Homo sapiens: one gene and its partners. The protein of the gene in region 2 purifies or fractionates together with the protein of the main gene of each other region. This does not show direct contact. Each region holds a gene or a part of one and is shown on either strand. Other genes may lie near its edges.

Region 1 (3,500 bases), on a different chromosome or scaffold from region 2:
TTGGACACTCTGCTTTAGATAATATAATTTTTTATCTGTTTCTCATGTAGAATATATATTATGAGCATTTTCCCATGTTGTAAATGTTTTTAATAACATATAAGGAAAATCTTATACTTCCGGTTATATCCCTGTTATGATCTTTATACAAAATATTTTTATTACATTTCATTTTGGGTTACCAACCTTTTGAGTTCCTTCTTAACAAAAAGCTTCTGGGTAAGTAGGCAGTTGAGAGCAGAACAGTAGCTCTTAACTGGAATGGTGAGAACTCTTCTCAGTGTTGGCAGTTTTAGGGGACTTAATAAACAATACCCTTTTCTACCATTCAAATTGAGCCACTTGAAAGAATAAAGGGAATCAGGCAGATGGAGGTCTGGTAGTGTATGGCCCAGCCTACTTGGGGTGTCTCTGTCCTCTCCCATCCTTATATTTTAGAACATAGGAACTAATTATGACTACAGTCATAAGCTGCTTGATGCTGCCAGTTACTAACCTTCCCCACATATTTTATCTTTTTTTTTTTTTTGAGATAGGGTCTTACTCCTGTCATCCAGGCTGGAGTGCAGTGGCATGATCATGGCTCACTGCAGCCTCAAGTTCCTGAGCTCAGGTGATTCTCCCACCTCAGCCTTCCAAGTAGCTGGGACCACAGACGGGTGCCACCATGCCCGGCTAATTTTTGTATTTTTTGTAGAGATGGGGTTTCACCATGTTGCCCAGGGGTCTGGAATTCCTGGGCTCAAGCAATCTGCTTGCCTCTGCCTCCCGAAGTGCTGGGATTACAGGTGTATGTCACTGCGCCTGGCCACCCTATGGTTAATTTTTGATCCTGCTTTTATGACATGGATTTTAGCAGGAGGGTATCAACATACTGTACTTTTCTGTTGTTTGGTGTGTCTTTGTTGGCTTCATTTATCTTTGGAATATTGCTGACGAGTCCCAGAAGCTGTGGTACAGAACTGTCCGTTCCCATTCATCTACTTTCCCATGTGAATCCAATTCTGTTTAAGCATGTGTCTTTCAGCGATGATGCCTAAAGCCATTCACTAAATTTAGATCTCTGAAGTCTGTTACTAAAGACCCCATTTTGCTAATATCTCTGGGTATGCCATTACTCTAGGAGCAATTGAGATTGAGACATATTTTAGTTCTCTGCTGTCAAATGTAAGCCTCCAGGTACTGTTCAGCTGGAGTTTGCAGGCTGTAGGGCTGTTCACGTCCATTATTGCTTTATGAGGTGTTCTCTGTTGTTTACAGTTTGTAGAGGCTCATTTAGGAACTCTGTCTATATGTCCAGGCCAGTCAAAGCCAGATATCTGTAACTTTAATTTCATGTGGAATTCATTCTCAGGCTTCCTAGGGCTTTAATTTCATGGACACAGAAGCCACGCATTTTACCTAACCTCTATAAAGTACTGGTATTATTAGCCACTTTGCTAAATCTCTGGTAATCTTCATTTGATCAGGCCCCGACCCTAAGTTTAAAGTGACTCCCTAAAATCCAGTCAGTGTCTGCTACTTACACCTCACATTTAAATTGATCTCTTAACACTGATGTTTTTGTTTATCCGCTTGTGCCTCCTTTAAATTGTTATTTTCCCAAAGGTCACATTCTCAGAAGTGGTAGCTTGGTGAGGCGAATTTAACTCCTTGTATCAAAAATGAAGTTTGATGGACCTCAATGGTCAGTCATCTTCTGAAACACAAGCTCACTACTCTGGCCTGACAAAGTGCCAGGATTGACCTTGGAAAAGTGCCAGAGGTGAGGGCCAGGCCTTCCTAATCCTGGGCCCTCCATTCTTTAGAGATTCAGTTGGCCTGTTCTCCTACCAAAATTGTGTTACCCTGTTCTGAGCCTTAATGAGAGTTATTTATAGCTTCTGCTGTCTCATGAGAACTGGGTATCTTAAATTGATAGCTGGCAATCCTGCTGGCAAGATTTGTGGCTTTATAATTTGAACAACCCCAGTTGTTTGCTGTTAAAGTGTCCTGACCTCATCTGGTGATGCCTGCTTGACCAGTATCCCAGATCTCTAGATGTCTATCAACCTCCTTATGTCTGGCCGTTCTTCCACTGTGGATGCTGCCCTTACATTCTCTCTTGGGGCCAATCTGATTGTTATACTGTTTATTATTGAGAATTTTAGGCCTATAGCCATCCATTTGTTTGTGGGCGCATGTGTGTTTTTCTAATATCTTCTTACAAAATTAACAGTGTGTGTATTTAAGAGACAATGTCGCACTGTTTTGCCCAGGCTGCAGTGTGTTGGTGTAATTATTGCTCACTGTAGCCTTGAACTCTTGGACACAGTGGTCCTCCTGCCTTAGCTTCCTGGGTAGCTGCGACTACAGGTGTGCAGCACCACACCTAGCTAATTAATTTTTTTTGGTAGAAACAGGATCTCACTATGTTGTCCAGTCTGGTCTCAAACTCCTGGGCTCAAGCCATCGTCTTGGCTCAGCCTCCCAAAGTGCTCGGATTAACCTTGTGGTTTTATCCTAAACAGCAATAAATGAATGGTATTCTAATTCTCTGTGAAGCTAACTTGGCTAGGTTGTCTTTGCCTGAGCTTCTTAACTTGTCCACATAAATAAATCACTATAATCTGGGGTTAACTGAGTATTCCTTGGAGTTTGCAGGGTTCTGAAAGAACCTAATAAACACACAGCTTGGTGAAATGTGAGTTATGTTTCTAAACTTATGACCTCTAAAGTTATTTGTTGTTTGTATGTAAGAATAAGTGGTGGAAAGATAAGCCCCCGAAAATTCTCGATTAGTAATTTATGTTAATTGTATTTTTTCAGTATATTATTATAGAAAGACAGGAAAGGTAAAAGGCACCAAATATGACTTTGGCTGATAATATTTCTGTTTTTTACTCTGAATTCAAGGTAAATTAGCTATTTTGTTTTATTTCTTCTTCTTTTTTTAATAGGGTTACACATCATTTTGGAATGACTGTATATCATCTGGATTACGTGGCTGTATGTTAATTGAATTAGCATTGAGAGGAAGGTTACAACTAGAGGCTTGTGGAATGAGACGTAAAAGTCTATTAACAAGAAAGGTAAGAGGAGTGCTGAGTAACATTCTTTTTAAAGAGGTTGTACTGCTTAAAATGTATGTTTTTACTAGTAGCCTTCAAAAATTAAAGTGGAAGTTGATATTAAAGTTGTCTTTCTTCAATTGTATTTCCATATCTTTTTTGCATTCTTGGTTTCCTGGTTCTTTCACCTACAATGAGTAATGTAATTGATTGTTAAGGTAACCGGCCACTGGATCTTACAAATTCAGAAAGATTCTAGACTTCATTTGCAGCTTTTATTTATTTATTTATTTTTAATTTTATTTTATTATTATTATTTTTTATTGATCATTCTTGGGTGTTTCTCGCAGAGGGGGATTTGGCAGGGTCACAGGACAATAGTGGAGGGAAGGTCAGCAGATAAACAAGTGAACAAAGGTCTCTGGTTTTCCTAGGCAGAGGACCCTGCGG
Region 2 (2,648 bases):
CTGCAGACACCACCATCCTGTGTGCAGGTGTGTGTTGGGGGGCACGGAGGGGCATGTTCCATGTCCTGTTGCACCCTCCACCCTGTGACCCATGTACTCGGTTGTAGGAAGTAAAGAGAACTGAGCACAATTCACTGGATTCTAGTGGAATCTTTCTCTAAGCAATTTTCCCATTCCTGCCTCTCCCTGCCCCGGAACCACCTGTGGTGCTAGTGTTGGGATCGGGGGCGTTTAACGCTGGTGGGCAGCAATAAGGGGCAGATGTGCCCAGATGCCTGCATCCCCAGGGTGCCGAGGGCAGCAGGAAAAAGTGGGGACCTCGGTGCATTTGCCCCACCCCTCCCCTCCCTGGGCTAAAGCACAATGTTCTCCCCGCAGATTAATGACCCTGCACCCTCCAGGCCCCTACTCACATCCTCCCCCAACCGGCTTCGGGTCCTCCCACCACACTCTGGTTTTCTATGCTGTTTTGGTGCAAGTACAACTGTCGTAGTCATGGCTTTGGGATGGGTTCTGTTTATTAAAATCCTATTGCTCCTACTGGCCCTGTGTCCCGCCTCCATTCCTGTGGTTGGGGGGAAGGAAGGGCAACCCGACCCCTTTCCACTGGCCCCATCAGCCCTCAGTGGTCACGGGCAGTAGCCGCTCCTCCAGCAGGGTTATGGCAAGCATGAGGCCGCCCCCCAGCAGCAGCCCCAGCCCCTGCAGGAGCACATGGGGCGTAGGCAGGGGCTCCGGAGGACGAAGCAGGGCTGGTAGCTGAAAGAAAAAGAGGATGTCAGGATTCTGGCCTTGCCCCTGACCTCTCAACTCCAGAGGAATGGTGTCAGAAAGCATCAGCAGCCCCCACCCAAACACCTTAGTCCCTTGTTTCTCAGACTTTTGCGGGCCTATGGTCTGACGCCCTTCCAGGAGCTAATGGTAGAGGCGGAGGGACTGCTACCTCCCTCTCCACTCCCGCCTCCCCACTGCCCTTGATTTCTCTGCTCTACCCGACATCTCTCACCATGTCCACAAGGGCCACATAGAGGAAGACCCCAGCAGTGACCCCAAACACCCAGGGAGTGAGGGGGACAGGGCCCAGGCTGAGCCCCACCCCCAGGACTGCACCCCCCAATCCCAGGGCTCCAGACACGAGGCTCAGCAGCAGCAGCCGCCGAAAGGACAGCCCTGACTGGAGCAGCATGGCAAAGTCACCTATTGGAGACAGAGGACAGGATGGGAGGGAGTAAGCTGGGGTGCCCCTCATCCATGCCACCCACCAGCCTCCAAGCTCTACCCCTTGGAGCTATCTCCTTTCTGGAGTCCACCCCACCCTGCTCCTGCCATTCCTACCCAGTTCGTGGGGCAGCTCATGGCAGAAGACCGCTAAGGTGGTACTGAGGCCGCTGGAGAAGCCATCAGAGAAGGCAGCACCTGGGGCCAGCAGGGTCGGAAGTTGTCAGTCCAGAAGAAAAGTCTCCTCAGAAGCAGGTTCCTGTGTTCCGTGGTCCTCCCGTCCTCTCCCCATCTTCCTGACGGCCCTCTCCTAGCCCCAGCTGATAACTAGGAGCCCTGGCCTCCCCTCGGACCTGCTTCCCTCCGTTCCCACCCCTCACACCTATGGCCAGCCCATCAGTGAGGTTGTGTAGACCATCTCCCAGGAGGACCATCCACGTGATATCAGTGCCACCCTGGTGCCCATGACTGTGGCCTTGGTGCCCAGGAGGGGCCAGAGCTGGTGGGTGCTGGCTGTTCTTCTCCCTCTGGCCCTGAGCCCCTGGCTCTGCGGGAAGAAGCACAGGACAGTGTTGGTGGCTGCAAGTAAGGACTGTGAGCTTGGAACCTACTCTTCAAATTTTCTCCTCTAGTCACCTGGAGCTGCCTGTAGGGGCTGAAGGGCCATCCCACTGCCATTCTCCGGATCCAAGTTGCGTGTTTCGAGATTCCTTCGTTTTCGCCTGCAGCATCTCTGAAATAGGAGGGCATCCCTCCTGGTGGAGGAGGCAGCAGAGCCAGGGACTAAGGGGAAGCCAGGCCACAAGCTGGGAAGATGAACACCTGGTTCCACCTCTGGCACCTGGGATGTTCTTTGGCCTCTACCTTCTTCCCAAGTTGGCACCTCCCCTCTGTTTCTTGTTGACTTGAGCTCAGAATAGGATGCCATTTGGCCAGAAGTCCTGGGTCTGTGCTTAAGGAGCCCCTACCCACTCCCTGTTAGCCGATAGGTCCTGCACACCAGGCAAATGTCAGAGATCCAGGAGCACACACTGCTCCTCATCTCTTGGCTTTTTGGCCCAGTTTTGTTGTTGTTGTTGTTGTTTTTGAGATGGAGTCTCGCTCTGTCACCTGGGCTGGAGTGCAGTGGTGCCATCTTAGCTCGCTGCAACCTCCACCTCCCAAGTCAAGCGATTCTCCTGCCTCAGCCTCCTGAGTAGCTGGGATTACAGACACGCACCACCACGCCCAGCTAATTTTTGTATTTTTAGTAGAGACAGGGTTTCACCATGTTGGTCAGGCTGGACTCGAACTCCTAACCTTGTGATCTGCCCGCCTTGGGCTCCCAAAGTGCTGGGATTACAGGCGTGAGCCACCGCGCCCGGCCTGGCCCAGTTCTTGACTGGGACTCTGGTCTCAGCAGAAGGAGGAGAAAAGGGTATCACTCACTG
Region 3 (3,500 bases), on a different chromosome or scaffold from region 2:
GGGCTTTAACCACTACGACACTATGGTAATAAGTTTTCCCCTGGTTGCAAAATTCAACATTTTCCAATCCTTGTTTCATTGGCTCTTTTATGACATTGAATCATTTTTGTTTAAAATTATTTTATCTTCTTGGCTTCCACAACACCATTTCCCTAGGTTTTCCCTTTTACTTCTCTAATTGCTTTTTCTTGGTCACTTCTTGCTCTGTCTGGACCAGAGTTCTCACTTTCATTTCAGTATACACATTTTTTGCTTAGGTGATCTCACCAATTTCCCCAGCTTCACCTAATGGCATTTAGTTGATGATTTCTAGTTGTTTAGATTCCTGGAGTCATCTCTATGAGGACTGATACATGTACACCTTTTCCCTAAGCTCCTGATTTGTACATCCAATTGCTTATTTAACATCACCTGGATATGCATAAGTAACTCAAATTCAGCATATACCAAACTAAAATTATCTTTCCCCTCAACTTGTTCCTTCCTCTGCATTACCTGTCTTAGAAAATGACATAATCACCCTAACAATAAAATCTATACACTATACGATTACTTTCCATTCTATCTCTTGCCTTTCCTTGAATACACCAAGGTCTTTCTGCCTCAGGGCTTTACATGATGTCTCCTGTGCCTTCTTGCTGGGTCTTCCTTTGGTCTTGTCCTTTAAATCTCAGCTTAAATATCCCTGTCTCAGAAAGGGTGGATCTAACTGTTTGCACTACATTATCGGCATTTTTCTCTATCACAGCAACCTGTTCACTCCTTGATGACAATGATCACAATTGGCAATTATTTATTTATATATTTACCTCTTTATTGTCTAGTTCCACCCACAAGACTATCAATTTCAGGGGGGCAGAAACCAAGTTTGTTTCGTTTGTGGTTTATTTCCAGTGCTTAATTTATATAAAGTGGATGCTCAATAAATATTTGTGTAATGCTGAATGAACGAATAAATCCTCACCTAAATTCTGTTATTCTACTTGCCGTATACCTCTTGAATTTGCAACCCCTTTACAAGAAGACATCATTTCTTATTGATCTTTGTTTTCCTTACTGCTTGGCACATATGAGGTGTTCAACAAATGTTTGTTGACTATAATATCACTCAGTAACATAAAAAATCCAAGAGATTAATATGGGCTATTAAATTTGAAAAACTGAAAAAATTCCCCCTCTACCTTTATTCCTTTTAACATGGTGTCTTTGTCCTTTTATTACATATCTTTTTCTGGTTTAAAGTACTTTGTAGATACTATTTACTTAATCTCAGCATTTCTATGAAGTAGGAGTCAGTCATCATTATCCCCATTTAGCAGTTAATACATGGAAAGTCAGATGAATAAGGAGACTAGCAGAAGATCATCTCACCTTTGCCACCTGCTCACACAGATTCCTTACAGTCTTTTGTAATCTCTCTTACTCTTTCCCACTAAGGACATTCCAAGGTTGGTTCAGACACCGCACAAGAAGTACTTTTACAGATTATCTTTTTTTCATTTTACATAAGGATTGGTCTTATCTTTTTTTTTTTTTTTGTAGAGTCTCGCTCTGTCGCCCAGGCTGGAGGGGAGTGGCACGATCTCGGCTCACTGCAACCTCAGCCTCCTGGGTTTAAGCAATTCTTGTGTCTCCGGCCTCCGGGGAGTAGCTGGGATTACAGGCATGCACCACCATGCCTGGCTAATTTTTCTATTTTTAGTACAGATGGGGTTTTGCCATGTTGGCCAGGCTGGTCTCTAACTCCTGGCCTCAAGTGATATCCCTGCCTTGGCCTCCCAAAGTGCTGGGATTATAGGGGTGAGCCAACCTGCCCAGCCCATTTTTTTGTGGTCACCACAGCAATAAACAACCATACTGGTTGTTGGGACAGTCCTGGGAAAGCTCTAAGAAGGCAGTGTAAGGCTGGTTGCTTCTCAGCTACTACCTAAACTTTTCTTCCTCCTTACTTATCTTAAAGGGTTAAATAAATTAAGATACCTGAACATTCAGGCATAAAACTGTAATGCCTATTGGAGTACAATGGAAAGAATAAAACTGAAACTATCTCCCTAGCTTTCTCCCTCAGTGTCCTTTTCAGGGTAATCCCATAGAATTTAGAAAAAGGGGTGGATGAAAGGACAATAGATACAATGGCCTTCATCTTCCCTCTGGTGCGGCCTGGCTGCACTGGTCATGTGAGCTGAATGCACACAGGAGAAAGCTGGAGAAAGGTGTCAGAGTCGGGTCTTTGTAGTGCATGTGAGACTGTATTTGCCCTGTCAGCAGCCCTGGGGGCCTTTTCTAACTCTTCTCTCTGACTTCTACCGTCACAGATAAATGTGTCTGTCTGTGGGTTTCTTTGAAATAGGTTTATATGAGAACTATACTACCAGGACTCTTTAGTGCAAGTCGTTCCCTTTGTTGACCATTGACATAGGCATGCTGATCACATTAGCATTTCCTAAATTCCTATCCAGAGTGTTAAAGTAGTAAACTCATCTACCACTTTGGAGAGACTCAATTTTCTTCCATCCACTGATTCAAAGAACACGTATTAAACACTTGTTATGTGTCAGTTTCCACACTAGGCACTGGGGATACAAAGACAAATAACATGGAGTTTTCTGACCTCAGGGAGCCCATAGGTTGATGAGGAAGTTAGAAAAGGAAACATGAAATTTTAAGTTTTATAGATGATATAGATACCTTGAGATGGTAGCAATTAATATCTCCTAATGATGGCCAGGAAAATCTTCCTAAAGGAATTGACAAGAGTTGAATCTAGAAAGGATAAATAGGCATTTTCTAGGTAGACAGGGTTGGTGAAGGATTGTCCAGGCTGATAGAACAGCTCTAGAAACTTGAGGCTGGGTGTGGTGGCTCATACTTGTAATCCCAGCACTTTGGGAAGCTGAGGTGGGTTGATCCCCTGAGCTCAGGAGTTCGAGACCATCCTGAGCAACGTGGAGAAACCCCATCTCTATGAAAAAATACCAAAATTAGCCGGGTATGGTGGCATGCGCCCATAGTCCCCGTTACTCAGGAGGCTGAGGTAGGAGGATCACTTGAGCCTGGGAGTCGGAGGTTGCAGTGAGCCAAGATCATGCCACTGCACTCCAGCCTGGGTGAGAGTGAGACCTGTCTCAAAAAGAAAAAAAAAAAGAAACTTGAAATAATTTCACAGGACTGGAGAATGCAACATGTATAGAGAGCAGCAGCCAGGTCATGAAAGGTCTCATACGCCACCTAAGAGTTTGAATGCTTTTGGCAGGCTGGTGTTATGTTAAGTTTTCCGGCCTTTAACGTTATTTGAAATTTTGAAAGTTATTCTTATTTTAAAAATACACAACTATTTATGGTATTGCATATGCTTTTCAAAACTGCATATCTCCTCTGATCTTACTGCAGGAGAGTCTCATAACCTCTCTCCCGAAATTCCTGCTATAGGCAATCAGTATACATGGAAGGGTGTGTGGGAGGTATGGCAGATTCTATAATAGACACTGGCTCATTCAACA
Region 4 (3,500 bases), on a different chromosome or scaffold from region 2:
AAAAAAAAAAAAAGGCCGAGCGCGGTGGCTCACGCCTGTAATCCCAGCACTTTGGGATTCCAAGGCAGGTGGATCACGAGGTCAGGAGTTCAAGACCAGCCTGGCCAAGATGGTGAAACCCCATCTCTACTAAAACTACAAAAATTAGCCAGGTGCGGTGGCAGGCGCCTGTAATCCCAGCTACTCGGGAGGCTGAGGCAGGAGAATCGCTTGAACCCAGGCAGCAGAGGTTGCAGTGAGCCAAGATCATGCCATTGTACTCCAGCCTGGGCAACAGAGTGAGAATCCATCTCAAAAAAAAAAATTAATGAATTTTTAATTTAATTTACTTCAATTTAATATGTAGCTAGTGGCTACTGCATTAGACAGTTTAGGTCGTGTGTGTGTGTGTGTGTGTGTGTGTGTTGGGGTGGAGGGGACAGACATACAAACAATTCCAATACAATATGGTCACAGCTAACATTTATTAATCTTTAAGCTATGCTGGGCACTGTTCTAAGCAGGTTACCTATATTAACCCCTGCAATTAGGAAAATAGCCCCTGAGCTAGGTATCTATTATCAACCTCATTTTAGAGGTGCAGAAATGGAGGCACAGGGGTTCAGTAACTTGCACGAGGTCACAATCCTCGAGCCCGGATAGAAGCCCAGGCCATCGGGCTCCAGGCCCATCCTCTGCCATGCCATTCCTCCTGCCTTGCTATCCAAATAGAGGGATGCAGAGGACTAGGGGAGCTGGTCTCACTCAGCTCAGGGGAGGCCCTGTGGAGTCTTGGAGGATGTGGAAGACTCAGCCAGGAAAGAAAGAGGGAAAGGACATCCAGGAGGCCTGGCATGAGAAAGGCCCAGAGGCGTGGGGCAGAGGGCGGCCCGGGCTCTGGAGGGTGCAGTCAGCTCTGAGATGGCACCTGGGCTTGGTACTGAAAGCAGTAGGCGCCATGCAGGGGCTTCAAGCTAGGGGGCCACAAAGGGTCCACTGGTATTTTAGAAACCTGCAGGGGCACTTAGAAGCTTGGGATCAGAGTGACGAAGGTGAGCAAACAAGAGCAGCTTGGTGAGGCCGGGTGAAGTGACTCGCGCCTGTAATCCCAGCACTTTGAGAGGCAGAGGCGGGTGGATCACCTGAGGTCAGGAGTTCGAGACTAGCCTGGCCAACATGGCAAAACCGTCTCTACTAAAAATACAAAAATTAGTCTGGCGTGGTGATGGGTGCCTGTAATCCCAGCTACTCAGGAGACTAAGGCAGGAGAATCCCTTGAACCCAGAAAGCAAAGGTTGCAGTGAGCCGAGGTTATACCACTTCAGCCTGGGCAACAGAGCAATACTCCATCTCAAAAAAAAACCCAACAACAACAACAACAAAAACTAGCTCCATGACAAGGGCTCAAGCTGAGACTACAAACTGGGATGGGGTTCCTCAAACTCCGAAACCCACCATGGCCCTCTAAGCGGAATGGAGCCCCCAAACCCTCACTGTCCTCTACTACCCTCCACCTGATGTCTCCCCCTGGCCTTCCTCTCCAGTGGAGGTGCCTCTGCTTCCCCTTCACTCCTGAGTCGAGGGCTGACTGCTCCGTTCGACAAGCTCTCACCCAGCCAGGTCCCCTCGCAGGTTAGGGCCGTCTCAGCACTGAAAGCAGCTGCCCTCCACTCCACTGCCCTGCCTGCTCTGGAACTATTTCAGGGCTTGCAATGATCTGTCTTCCTACTTGTCTGTGAACGTCCAAAGGCAAAGAGCGGGTCTTCTTCCTCACCGTGGTTCCCAGCACCAGCCACAATGCCTGGCACAGCCTAGGAGTTGAAGTAAGTACTAGCTGAGCGAGACCAAAAGCCTGGGGGTAGACCAGGAACTGCAGGCTTGCTCTGGGCCTTGCACTTCCTGTGCACCTGTGCATCCAGCAGGTGCACAACAAATCTGTGTAGACCCATTGAAGATAAAGGTGGCAGGGAAGGTAGGAATAGATGGAGAATAGAAACCACGAGAAGCCCCGATAACTGTAAACATTTATTGAACACCTTCTGTACTGTGTTTTTTCACTTTGTGATTTCTTACTCCAATTTGATGATGTAGGCACTAACCTTCCACGTCTTACAAATGAGCAAATTATGGCTCAGAGAGGTGAAGTGACTTGCCCAAGGACACCCAGCTAATATAGGACAGTGGAGGTCTCTACACCTAGGTCAGGGGAAGGAAGAAGAGTTGGCGTGGGTGAGGGGGAGCCTTACCGGGAGAGCCTAGGAGAATGTGCACCAGGTCCTCATAGAGGATGAGCGTGGCCGGCCGCTCAGGGAGCAGGTAGAGGCTGACAGACGCATACACTGCGGGAGGGATGGCCGGTCAGCTCCAGGAAAACCCACCCCCTACCCCCCAGCCAGGCACCCCCTCCATCTGAGTCCCAGAGGCTTCACCCTCCCTCAGCCCCCTCTGTGTACCCCAGCCCAGGCAGCAGCTGCTGGAAAGCCTCCCCCTCCACCCCCAAGGAGACTATTTTGGGAAGGGGCTGATGGAGGGTCAGCTGCTGTCCCCCCCCTCCACCTGCCCCTGCACTCACAGGGCAGCTTGTCAACACGCCAGGGCACAGAGTTGGTGAGGAAGCCAGGGCGGGCAGCAGTGACCAGCACCCAGGTGCCCAAGCGATAACTGAGGGGCAGGGTGGCCACACCCTCTGAGTCTGTGGTGCCAGCTGCCAGCAGAGTCCGGTTCCCAAACACATCCACTGAGGCCCGGGCCAGGGGCACCAGCTCCCCGCTCACATACACCTGCACCTTGATCAGGATCTCTGTGGGCAAGATGGGGCAAAGGGAGTGAGGACGAGGGAGGGGGAAAGAGAACTGGGGGGAGCCCCAAGATCAGAGGAAGGAGCTGTGTTTGAGAGAGTCTTTTGGGCTGAGGCTAGAGAAGGCATGATTTAAGACCCAGCATTCACAGAGCACTCACTGAAACCTCCTATCAGCCCATGCCGGAGGTGGGACTATTCCTGTATTTCATCGTCTAACACATGCGCTGTGTCACATTTTCACAATTCTAAACTCGGGCTATGCCTATGATTGATGATGCCATCGTTATAACTGGCAGCATTTCTTCCTTTCTTACTGGTACCTGAAATCATGGTGCATCTTACAGTCAGTGGTGTATTGGATTTGATAATATATGCTCTTAGTCCATTTTACAGATAAGGAAACTGAGGCTTAGAGAGTTTAGATACTTGGACTACAGCTAAGTGGAGATCTGGGATCCAGACCTGGCAGTCTGCCTCTAGAAGCGACATTCTTAACCCCGGGCCTGGGGAGAGGAGAAGGACAGGAGGGCTGAGAAAGGCTAAGTAAAGCTGGGTCCGCAGGCGGAGAGGAGAAGGGTCAAGATTCAGCAGTTTGAAAGGGAGGATGGAGGCTAGGGCAGAGTTTGGGGTCTTGGGAAAAAATTGACAGGGGACACTAGGAAACTGGTCATTCCCATCATTCATCCTTTTCCCAGAATCCTTTGCACAAGCCTGTTTCCCT
Region 5 (3,500 bases), on a different chromosome or scaffold from region 2:
AGGCCAAGGGGGGCGGATCACGAGGTCAGGAGATTGAGACCATCCTGGCTAACACAGTCTCTGCTAAAAATACAAAAAATTAGCCGGGCGTGGTGGCAGGCGCCTGTAGTCCTAGTTACTCAGGAGGCTGAGGCAGGAGAACGGCGTGAACCCAGGAGGCGGAGCTTGCAGTGAGCCGAGATCGCGCCACTGCACTTCAGCCTGGGCAACAGAGTGAGACTCCGTCTCAAAAAAAAAAAAAAAAAAAAGCTGAAAGGGCTAATTAAGAGAGCAGCTATTCTGCCAACCAAAGGGCTACAAAATAGTGACCAAGACATCTAGCACAGTGCTCCTCAAGATGTTTTACTTTTAATCTTTCAGACTGATACTTTCTGTAAAATGCAAGATTACATACTTGGATGTCACAGCAAAACCAAATTGCTCTAAAAGTTTCTAAATGTTTACTCTCACTTTCTGTACATATAATATAGTCCATAACTGTTCACTGTTCATTGACTGGCATTTGTCTACAGACTGAACTTTGAGTAACACTGTTCTATAGCACACAAGAAGGACTCAAGAGCCTCCTGAAAACTCAACTGGCAGGTTAAATAGAATTATGAAAACATTTAGTAAGAAAAAAAAGAAAAACCCCAGTAGCAGGGGCAAGAGGATGACTTGAGGGTCAACAAGCTGACAGATAAAATAAACTCAAGAGGCTAATTACTAAACCTAAAATACAAAGCTGGCTACAGAGCAAAGACTCAACTGCTAATTCCTTCCCCACCCCCAAGTGCTCTAGAGGGTAGCCCTCAGAAAACACGTTGGCCAGGAAGTCATCAGCCCCAGAGGGGACAAGAGGTGTGAATGTAGCAGGCAGAGCTGACTTGGGCCTCTTCTCAGGAGTGAGAATCCACCCTAAGCCATCATCAAGCTTTGGGGACATCAAGCACAAGTTGCAAAGGCTGGAAAGAATTTCTTCTCTGCCAAAGAAAACATGCAAACATTTCCTTTAGTGACACGGGACTGCACACCCACATATTCAGAGACACACACCTGTGGTTTTAGGAGGCTCCTGAGGTCCACCCTGCCAGCCGTACTGTGGGTATCCTTGGTAGGGGTACCCTTGAGGAGGTGGGTAGGGTCCCCCCATAGGTCCTGGACCCATTGGTTGTGGTGGATAAGGTGGGTATGGGGCCGTTGGACCAGGGCCTGGATATGGTGGAGGGTTCTCTTGGTTCATCGGGGACCTGTAAAGTGCACCTAAGAGACAAAAAGAATGAAAATTATTTGCATTTAACTGTGGAAATCATCAGGAATAAAATCCTAACCCATAAGATCATTTACAAAATACCTTCAAGGTGTATCAAGCCTTGTGCAAATCTCTAGCTCTGCCCATTTTGTTTCCTTCTCACCATCACTATAATTGGCAATTATCTTATATATTTATTTGCCTTTTGTCTATTTCCTCCACTAGACTGTAGGCTGTGACAGTAGATATCAAGTAAGTTTTGGATCACCACCATGTCCCTAGAGCACTGCAGAGTGCCTGGTACAAGGCAGTCCCCTAAATAAATGTGTTAAATGAATAGCAAGATATTTTGTTTTTTAATTCCTCTGAAGTGTCCATAAATGTGATTGGATAGCTTTAAGAAAGTGTTCTAACAGCACTATGAGTCTCATCAGTGGACGCTGATCCACTACTAGAAACCCTCCAATCAACAGGGCTGGGCCACAGTGGGGCCTTCTAACGAGCAGCACTGGCAGCAATGACCAACCAAAGTTTGTAACCATCACCATTGCTCTGGGGATTGGGGTGATCTGGTTGTTCTCCCCAGACCCGCTGCTCTGAGCAGTTGGACAGCGCTGTTTATAGAGAATGCCAAGCGTCTCCTCTGCCCATCCAGGCCCCTGAGACTCTGGAGGGCTCACCAGGAACATTTATTTGTGTTTACAGGACCCTGTCCTCCATGGTTTGCTTCTGTGAGGGAAGCCACGCTTCCCAGCCCCCAAGCCTGTTAATCATTCTCTTGATTGGGCTTGAAGTTTTCAGGGCCAGCGTCTTGTTTCTATTATCTCTTTAAGTTCCACAGTGCCTGGCACGGTGACTTTCAGATTAAAAACAAACAAATGGCCAGGTGTGGTGGCTCATGCCTGTAATCCCAGCACTTTGGGAGGCCGAGGCGGGCGGATCACGTTGAGATTGAGACCATCCTGGCTAACATGGTGAAACCCCGTCTCTACTAAAAATACAAAAAATTAGCCGGGCATGGTGGCATGTGCTTGTAGTCCCGCTACTCAGGAGGCTGAGGCAGGAGAATCGCTTGAACTTGGGAGGTAGAGGTTGCAATGAGCTGAGATCGTGCCACTGCACTCCAGCCTGGGCAACAAAGTGAGACTCCGTCTCAAAAACAAACAAACAAACAAACAAACAAACAATTACTGGGGAATGCAAAGTATAAACTCTAAGGATGACTCACTTAACATATCATCTGTCATACTGCTGCCTTGTACTGTTACCCATATCTTACATCAATAGTTAACTTTTTACCTATTTGAGTGTCTTCTATCCCCAACCAAATAGTAGGGAAGAGTCTCAGATTCAAAATGTAATAATTTCACTATTAATTCTTTTCCATAACAGGCAATCAACAAATTCCTAAGTGACTTTATTATATAAAGGACAGAATAGTTATAAATAGTCTAGGTTCCCTAGAAAATCTGGATTACAGTAGCAGTGGACTTTGATGGTTGCCCACACAACATCCATATTCTCCCTTCCTAACAGGAGTCAGGTTTCCAGGTAGATCTCTGCTCATTCTTCCTGTAGTTCATGTGCTTCAGGGAAAGCTCATCCCATCCAGCTCCAGGGTGAACCCAGTCTATCTAAGCCAATCGGGGTCACTCTCTCCACTTTTTTATCATGATTGATTCAAGGAATTCAGGACTTTACCCAGATGCAAATGGCACTCCCTGGCCACTGGGACTGGTTCTGAAGTGGTTCAATCAGTAAAAAGCTCAGACTCTCTTAACACACTCCCACCGAACCTTCCCTTCCCCTGTACAAAGGTATACACAAAGTCTAGGAAAGATTGGCCTACAAAATTGCTGACAGCCAATCTGCAGCCCTGAGAAGGAGCCAGTTTTAAGATTAAGTGGGCCATTCAGAAAGGCAGAGCAGAAAAAAGGAAAGAAATGGGATTCCAGATGACTTTATAACAGCTCCTAAATCAAAGACTAAAGCCTGGCCTAACCTAAACTACCTCTATCGAATTTCCAGTCCTGGAAACCAATGGTAAGGTAAGGTAATGAACCCTTCTGGGTGACATTCACAAACATACATTTATTAAGTGCTTTCTTGACACTGGGCTAAGTAGTGGGGTATAGAGATCAATATGCCTCAAACCCTACCCTTGTGCAACTGGCTGAAACAAACATAAGGAAAATGATTTTTAGAAAATGTGGTAAACAGACTGCTGGGTAGGAGTAGGCGCTTAAACCTAGTAGAAGGAGGTGCTGAT
Region 6 (3,962 bases), on a different chromosome or scaffold from region 2:
CTCTCCCCATCAATGCTAGACTTGCAAATCCAACTGCCCAATAGATGATGTCACCAGAAGGAGACCTCATGGGCCTCATGCCCAACCAGCCCAAACCTGAACTCTTGACCTCCTTGCACCCTGAGTCTTCCCTGCCTCAGATAACCCTGCCTGTCCTTTCAGGCTGGGAAGCTGAGACCTGGAGAAGCATCTCTGACTCTTCTTTCTTGTCTACACCAGATCCATTGAGAAAAAAGACGCTGAGCTCTAGCTTCTAAACGATATCTAAAATGGGATCACTTCCTCCTTCCCTATCCCAGCCTTGTGAGAGCCACCCTCCATCTCCCTGGCTTTTTGTAACTGGCCCCAGCTTCCACCCCCTGCCCCCCAGGGTGCGAAGTGTTTGCCACCTGGCAGCCAATCCTGGTCAGATCCCACCCTTTCTCTGTACAAAGCCCCCAGGGGGTCCCATGGCCCTCAGAAGAAAAGCCCAAGTCTTCTGAGCAGTGGCAGCCCACGGTGGCCTGCCCACCCTCACTCTCTGGCAGCTCCTCCGCCAGCCCCTCCTGGACTCTGCCCAGCCTCCTGGATCCTTCCTGTACTTCCACAGGCCCTCTGCCTTGGGAACCTTGCCCCAGACACCCACAGGGCCTCCGTGCTCTTCTGCAGGCCTGTGCTCACTCACCACCTTCTCAGCCGTTCTCCTCAGAACACCCTAAAGGAAACAGCACTCCCCAACCCAACACCTCCCAGCTCTTGCTAGATGTCTAGACACACTTGCTTTTCTGGACTGTGTCTCCTCTGCCACAGGGTCAGGGTCTCCACTGCAGCTTCCCTACACCAATACAGGCCTGGCACAGTGTAGGTGCATAGGATTTTACTGGCTTTGCACTCTCCTCTCCCCATCCTCCTGCCTCCCAGGAAAGGGAAGGGCTGATGGAAGCCTTGCAAGATGTGGGAGGACAACAAAGACATGACCCAGACCCCAGGTGGGCAGTGCCCAGAGTGGCTGTCCTTCCCATCGACCCTTGCCACTCATGACCACAGCGATCTCCACTTAGCCCCATGAGGGGGTTGTGATCACTATCCCATTTTACAGAGGTGGAGACAGGCCCAGAGAGGTCAAATGACTTGCCCAGGTCCACACAGCTGGGTAGGGTGGCACCAGGATGGGAACCCAAACCCAGGCTCGGTTCCTGGAGCAGGCGCCTCCTGGGAGGTCTGCAGACCAGGGGAGCGGGAGCAAAGGGCTCTCAGGCTCCGGACAGCTAGAGCCTGGCACCGGACCCCCATTCCTGGTCCCGGGCCTGTCTGGGAAAGAGGGCTGGAGTGAGTAGACAGAGACCACGGCGATCGCGCCCTCCCCCTCTCCAGGCACCGCCCCGCCCGCCGCCGCCGCTGCATTCCTGGGGCCGGGGAGGCCCGGGAGTCCGCGGCGGCGGCATCGATGCGAAGCAGATGGCGGGCCAGGCCGGCCCCCGCCCCGGAGGCGGGGCTCGCAGCGGGGAGGGGTCTGCGCGCCTCCGGACCAGAGTTCGGAAACCCCGCGCTGCCCCCTCGCAGCCCCTTGTCTCTGGCGCCGAGCCCCTGGACTCGGCTTGCCCCGGGTCCGTGGCTCAGGCGCCCCGACGCGACCCAGCTCGGAGCCCGGCGGCCGCCTCTGCGGCTGCCAGCCCGTGCGGCGTCTCCAATCCGCGCCAAGGCGCCCCCACACGCCCGCTCCTCACCCCTGCGTGGAGATGCCCTTGACCTTGTGGCCTTTGGCCAGCCCACCGGCTCCCCCGACCCCAGCTCCTAACTCCTGGCGTCCGGGGCTCACCTCTCTGCCCTCCGTGCAAACTCCCGGACTCGCCCCCCCACCGGCCGGGCCTGTCGCCTGCCTGTCCCACACTGGCTTCCCCAGCCGGCGCCCCACATTTGCGCGGCCCCTTCTTGCACCCAGAATCCCCACCTGGTTGTCGCCAGGGTTCCCACATCCTCCGGTCCCCTGTGCCTGTCATAGTCCTTCCGCCTCCCGCTTCTGGTCCACTTCGAGCGCCGGCTCCTCGACGCTCGCCTGGGTCACCACCCTCCCACCCGCGCCCGCTCTAAGACGCGAATCTGTCTTTCCAAGTCTGGCTTGCTCCAGGACCTCCCCGGCTAGCACCGCTCCTCCTCCCCTGACCTTCCTCCTCACTCCCACTCCCGGCTCCAGTCGGACTAGTGCGGGGCTTTAGCACATGCAGTTCCTTTGGCTTGAATGCCCTTCCCCAGCTTTTCCCCGTGGACTTCACAACTCGGTCAAGGGTCCCTTTTTCCAGGTCTTTCCTGATATCCCGGACAACGCGTGTCATCCCCTGGGTGCCCACGGCACTCCATCCTCCCCTCAGGTGACTTCTCGTCCAGGGTTCCCTGGGATGCACTGTCGTGGCCCATGGCCGAGGCTGGGCCTGGAACGGAGCCGCGCTGGCTAGGGAGCCGAAGGGGCCCACACTTGGCGTAGGAAGGTTCCGGTAGCCCCCTCCCAATGCCCGGCGCCGCCACACCACTGCCCAGAGCGTCCCTCTCGCCCCCTCCCCCAGCCAGGCCGGCTCCTACCCGGGAGCACGGCACACGTTGCGGCCGCGAGGGTTCAGTTCCTGAGGCGCCACGGTGTCCGGCAGCATCCAGAGCAGCAGCAGCAGCAGCAGCGACGGCAGCAGCGGTGACGGCGGCCCCCCGGCTCCCCGGCGCCGCGCCGGCCCGGCCCCCCGGGGCCCTGCGCCCTCCATGAGGCGCGGGGCAGGCGCGGGGCGGGCACGGGCGCGGGTGCGGCCGCAGCGAGAGCGGCCGGAAGCGGAGTGCGAGGCCGGGCGGGGGGCGGCAGGAGGGGCGCCGAGCCGGGCAGGAAATTCCACATCGGCTCCCTGATCCCGGGCCAGCCGCGGCCGGCCAGGCGGCAGCGCCCGCCCCGCGCTCCAGACCCCACCCTCCGGCCTAGCCACCGCCCCTCCGCGCAGCCCCCGCCCCCATTTGGCCGCTCGCAAACTTGGGGGCGAACTTGGAGGAGGCCCGCCGAGCGCTGGTGGAGGGAGGGTCCGCCCGAGGAATCCCCGGTTCCCGCGCCTTTCCCTCCGCTCCCTAGACATCTACCGAAGCAGCCGCCCCTGCGCGCCCACTGCGTAGGCCAGGCCCGGGACGGGAAGGCGGATCGGGGACACGGACGCGACTCCGCAAGCCCACCCCCGCTCCCAGCGCCTCGGAACCGGCCAAGGGAGTGGGGCCCGCAGACAGCCCAGGTCGAGGCCGAAAGCCAACTCCACAGCACCCCACCGCGAAGTCCTTGTAGTGCTGGGGTGTGCGGTCAGCTCCCCCTGCGCACTCCTGCGCACTCAGAGCTCGCAAGGGGCGGACCGAGCAGGATGCTTGAGGCCTGTGGTAGACTCGGTCCGGACCAGAGGCCTGGGGGAAGGGGTCTCCGTAGGGACGGATGGGAGAGATACAGAGGAAGTAGAATGGCCAGGCTGTGGACTGCGGTAGGAAGTAGAGGTAAAGACAGAAGGAGACCCCCGGGATGGAAACCCTGCAGTCCTAGTTGAGGAGTGAAGGGGGCTGGGGGAGCCTGGGCGGTGGATTCTGCTGGCTGTCGGATTTCCAGGAGAGGCTGGGGCTAGAGAGTGGGAACTCCTGCATCAGGTAAGGTGGGTAACAGCACAGAGCAGAAGGAAGGTGTGGGAAGGGAGCAAGACAGAGGGACAGGCCCTAGGGAGCCAGCGGGGAAGCTGGACTTGGACTGGGAGGCAGCAGGGTGCGGGTCCCCGGGGGGCAACTGGGGCAGACCGACTCTGGAAGTTGGGCAGGGAGCACAAATGTCCCGTGTGTAGCCAGGTCCTAGTGAGGATGTTTGTCTTTTGGGGACTTGAGAGCTGGCAGAAGGCCTAAGCAGGGAGCGGGCACCTCCGTTCTTTGGGGAGCAGGCCACATGCGGCCCACAGGCTCACTGAGGGAGGGCAGGCAGACTCTGT
Region 7 (3,500 bases), on a different chromosome or scaffold from region 2:
TGTCTACATGTGTTGGCTCGGGGTGGTGGGGGCAAATGGACAGGAAGGAGGCACTGCCCTCAGCTCTCCTTGAGCTTTGGGGGCTGCTTCTGCCACCGCGCCCAACCCTCAGGCTGCCACAGCCTTTCAAATAAACAGTCCCTCTCTGTCTCCCTCCCTCTCTGCCTCCTGCCCGAGTTCTCCTCTCAGGCCCGTGTCAGTTCGCCCTCTCATACCCTCCGCGAGCAGCGCTCACTTCCCCTCTCCAGCTAGGCTCGCCTGCTCTGCCTTGCTCTCACACTCCCTCTCACTCTTAGTCACTCTCTGCCTCTTTTTCTCAAGTCCTTTTGTTTCTCGCACATGCCCGTGCTCTCCCTCTCAGGCTCATTTTCTCTCTTCCTTCCCCTCTTCCTCTCCTGGCTTTTGGTCTCTCTCCTCAGCCCTGTCAGAAGCTGGCAACCCCCCTCCCAAAAAAGAAAATCTCCCAGTGCCTATAAACCCTGCTTAATTGCTTCCTTCTTGGGAAAAAAAAAATCAAAATAAAAGAAGTGGTGGGGCTGGGGGTCCGCTTCCAGGTTCCAAGGTGCGTGCGGCCCGGCCCCAGCCCTGACTGAGAGGGGAAGCGGGAATGGCTGGCCCAAGACTCCCAAGCCTCTTTCCCAAATTGGTGCTGGGGCCTTCTGGGATGCTAGTCCCTGAGTGGCAGGAGCTTCTGCCTCCTTGGCCCCTCCTGTCAGATTTGCCCCATGAGCGCAAGGTGGGGGGATGGGTTTGGTCCTGCTAGAGTTTTTTTTAGGAACCTCTGTGTGTGCGTGTGTGTGTGTGTGTGTGTGTGTGTGTGTCTGAGTTGGGGGGCTGTTATCTAAATGGTCCTAGGCGACCCCTCCCGCAGCCTCTTCCCCTGGGAACTTGGGGCAGCCGGCAGGCCTCACACTTGAGTCCTCAGCCAAGTCCAGCTGCTGCAGTTCAGTCTCTCAGTCCCGTCCTGACCCCTTCCTGCCCCCCACTCAGGTTCCCCCACCTCCAGGGAGTCAGAATGTGCCTGAGATCACATTACAAACATTCCCTACAAGGGGGTGGGGGTGGGGGGGTTCAGCTTGGCATCCAGGACCCTTGACTCCAGCATGGGTGGGGGCAGCTGCAGACCCCAACCCATGCTTGCCTGCTCCAAGCCAAAGTGTTGGCCCCAGCCCCACACAGCTGTTCTAGCTCACAGTCCTGGGGAGGCCAGCTCAGGGGGCCCTTTTCCGGGGTGGTTAGGGACCTGACCTCTTCTACTTTGTGGCTGATTGGCCACAGGTGGGAGCCTGAGAGTGATGGGAATCCAGCAGCTCCTAAAGTCCCCTGTTCCCCTGCCTCCCCTCTCCCACATAGGGCAGCCAGGCAAGGGCAAGAAGGACCTGTGAGGCTGGGGTGGGGACTGAATCAAGGGTTCCCTTTCTTCCCTTGGGCTCTCTGTTGTCTCATCCGCTCAGGTGAATGGGGATGCGTGGGCCCTGGATACTATGGTGCATCACTGTTTTCTGGGGTTAGGGACTAAAGGAGATAGAGTGGGCCAGCCAGGAGGCTGCTAGTTGCCATGGGAACACCAGGTTTGGGGGAGAGTCCACTCTGTGACTATTAGAGGAGCTGAGATACGGGGGTGCTCACCAGCCACATTCTGGGTTCCTTACCCCGCAGACCATAGCAGCCCCTCTTGGGCGTGTTTCACGATCATTGTTTTGGGTCAGGGTGCTAGCAGCCAGGAATGTAAGCTCCTTCAGCTTTTTACTTCTAAATAATGCTGTGTTTGGCATGCTAACTAATAGGCAGGCGGCACCTTGCTACTTACAATGCATTCTCATATATGATCTCATCGAATGCTCCCAACAACCCTGGGAAGTAGGTATTGGTCCCATTTTCCAGATAAGAAGGCATATGCCCGGACAAGGGAAGTGACTTGTCTAAGGCCAGTCAATGACTTGCCTATGGGGGCAGAGCTGTGTTGTGTGCCATTCATTCCTGCTGCCTTGAAATGTAGGAGAGACAGGAATTCAAGGTGGGGTTTGGGAAGAGGCCCTGGCTCCCTGCCCCTGAGTTCCCCTCTTACCTCGCAGGTGTGCAAGCATCTGTCCCTGTGACTCAGGCCCTGTCTGTGTGGGGTGAGCAGTGCTCCAACTTCCTCATTTGACTTTTCTAGGCCTACCTTCCAGGGCTGACTGCTTGGGTGACCTGAACTAAAGGCAGCCAACTCACTGCCTGGCACACTCCCTGCGGAGCTCTGAGTGGCACCTTTGGTTCCTCTCTGAGCTAAGAATCTCTCTTCTCAGGGACCCCACAGAAAGCAGACATCGACATCGAGGAGGGGGGGTATTAAATTCATAATGGACACGAGCCTTAGCCAGGTGGGGCAGAGGGAAGGGCATAGTTCAGTGTAGATGGGGAGGGTGACTTCCTCCAGGACTCTCCTGGCTTCCCTGCCTCTGACAGAGCTGTGTGTGCCAGGACCCAGCTGCTGTTCCTGCCCACCCACGCCTGGGCGGGCACTGCTGGGACATGCCAGGCCTGCTCCTGCCAGCCTCGGGGGCTGGGTGGAGCTGGGGGAGTTAAAGAGGAGCCTTTAATTTGGGGGCTCCCCACCCTAGCTGGGATGAGAACAGACTTGAGCTCTGGCTTGGGGTCTGTCCTCCATTGGTCTTGCCACCCTGGGAGGTGCAGGTGCAGTGGTCGTGGGGTCACTGAATCGAGGTTGAGGCTAGAGGCTTCTACCAGACTTGGGCTTGCATGGCCTAGAACCAGGCTCCCCCTTTGGTCATTCTCTGACCACAAGTTGCTAGAGCCTGAGAGCAGGGTGACAGGGAAAGAAGTATAGACCTGGTGGGATGTGGGCAGCTTTCTGGGCAAGACCCTCCTAGCTGCAAGCTCTCCCTGCCCCCTGTAAATTGTATTCACATGGGTGGAGAAGGGCTTATCCGGAGAAAACAAGGAGGGGGCTGTTGGTTAGTTGGTTTCTGGCCAGTCCAGGGCCTTGGAGGCTACTGTCCCCAACCCCTTCAGGCTTTTCATATCCCAGGATTCTTTGTGGCAGTGATGGCATCGTGGTGCTTCTAAGCTAGGTAGAAAGGCTGAAGGTAGAACTTGGGTTAGGGTAGAGGGGGAAGAGCTGGAATAGCTTAGGCCGCCTCCCCCAAGTCCTTTTACTCCCTGGGGTGGCGCCCTGGGGTCCCAGGGCTATCTGAGGCTGGAGAGGGAAGGCCTCAGGGGTTACCATGGTGACCTGCTTCAGGCTTCCTGCTGAGCCATGTCAATCCCTTTATTTTTCAGAAAAGGGCTTTGTCTGGGGGTGGCCCCAGACAGAAAAGCTTGGCTTGGTCCTAGGGTGGGGGGAAGTAAGGTGGAGGATAAAGAGTTTCACTTCGGGATATCTCTTCCTCCTCTTCCCTTACTCCTACTCCTAATCTGGTAAGAGGGGAGAACTGTAGGGTCCCCCTTTAAAGTATGACTAGTGTTCTACCTAGCTTTGGCCTTCACTCTCACTGGCT

What was found.
Region 1: the proteins of SLC39A5 (region 2) and GOLPH3 purify together in Homo sapiens (affinity purification with mass spectrometry; 2 studies listed by BioGRID and IntAct, with this or other methods). This does not show direct contact.
Region 3: the proteins of SLC39A5 (region 2) and GPR89A purify together in Homo sapiens (affinity purification with mass spectrometry, with the first as the bait; 2 studies listed by BioGRID). This does not show direct contact.
Region 4: the proteins of SLC39A5 (region 2) and FAM171A2 purify together in Homo sapiens (affinity purification with mass spectrometry; 3 studies listed by BioGRID and IntAct, with this or other methods). This does not show direct contact.
Region 5: the proteins of SLC39A5 (region 2) and CYSTM1 purify together in Homo sapiens (affinity purification with mass spectrometry; 2 studies listed by BioGRID and IntAct, with this or other methods). This does not show direct contact.
Region 6: the proteins of SLC39A5 (region 2) and SCARF2 purify together in Homo sapiens (affinity purification with mass spectrometry; 2 studies listed by BioGRID and IntAct, with this or other methods). This does not show direct contact.
Region 7: the proteins of SLC39A5 (region 2) and EFNB1 purify together in Homo sapiens (affinity purification with mass spectrometry; 2 studies listed by BioGRID and IntAct, with this or other methods). This does not show direct contact.

Annotation. Positions count from the first base shown.
Region 1 is NC_000005.10:32,143,320-32,146,819, reverse strand, and holds part of GOLPH3 (Golgi phosphoprotein 3), read left to right. Parts: intron 1-2,939; coding exon 2,940-3,071; intron 3,072-3,500. UniProt on the Homo sapiens protein: Phosphatidylinositol-4-phosphate-binding protein that links Golgi membranes to the cytoskeleton and may participate in the tensile force required for vesicle budding from the Golgi.
Region 2 is NC_000012.12:56,235,699-56,238,346, reverse strand, and holds the end of SLC39A5 (zinc transporter ZIP5 precursor), read right to left. Parts: coding exon 2,647-2,648; intron 1,974-2,646; exon of another isoform or gene 1,952-1,973; coding exon 1,855-1,951; intron 1,766-1,854; coding exon 1,601-1,765; intron 1,417-1,600; coding exon 1,336-1,416; intron 1,198-1,335; coding exon 1,007-1,197; intron 760-1,006; coding exon 616-759; 3' UTR 501-615; downstream 1-500. UniProt on the Homo sapiens protein: Uniporter that transports zinc(2+) into polarized cells of enterocytes, pancreatic acinar and endoderm cells across the basolateral membrane and participates, notably, in zinc excretion from the intestine by the uptake of zinc from the blood into the intestine.
Region 3 is NC_000001.11:145,624,988-145,628,487, reverse strand, and holds part of GPR89A (Golgi pH regulator A), read right to left. Parts: intron 1-3,500. UniProt on the Homo sapiens protein: Voltage-gated channel that enables the transfer of anions such as iodide, chloride, bromide and fluoride which may function in counter-ion conductance and participates in Golgi acidification.
Region 4 is NC_000017.11:44,357,354-44,360,853, forward strand, and holds part of FAM171A2 (protein FAM171A2 precursor), read right to left. Parts: intron 2,780-3,500; coding exon 2,552-2,779; intron 2,319-2,551; coding exon 2,226-2,318; intron 1,753-2,225; exon of another isoform or gene 1,592-1,752; intron 1-1,591.
Region 5 is NC_000005.10:140,192,188-140,195,687, reverse strand, and holds part of CYSTM1 (cysteine-rich and transmembrane domain-containing protein 1), read right to left. Parts: intron 1,243-3,500; 5' UTR 1,223-1,242; coding exon 1,036-1,222; intron 1-1,035.
Region 6 is NC_000022.11:20,435,026-20,438,987, forward strand, and holds the start of SCARF2 (scavenger receptor class F member 2 isoform 2 precursor), read right to left. Parts: upstream 2,801-3,962; 5' UTR 2,730-2,800; coding exon 2,557-2,729; intron 1-2,556. UniProt on the Homo sapiens protein: Probable adhesion protein, which mediates homophilic and heterophilic interactions. In contrast to SCARF1, it poorly mediates the binding and degradation of acetylated low density lipoprotein (Ac-LDL).
Region 7 is NC_000023.11:68,832,021-68,835,520, forward strand, and holds part of EFNB1 (ephrin-B1 precursor), read left to right. Parts: intron 1-3,500. UniProt on the Homo sapiens protein: Cell surface transmembrane ligand for Eph receptors, a family of receptor tyrosine kinases which are crucial for migration, repulsion and adhesion during neuronal, vascular and epithelial development.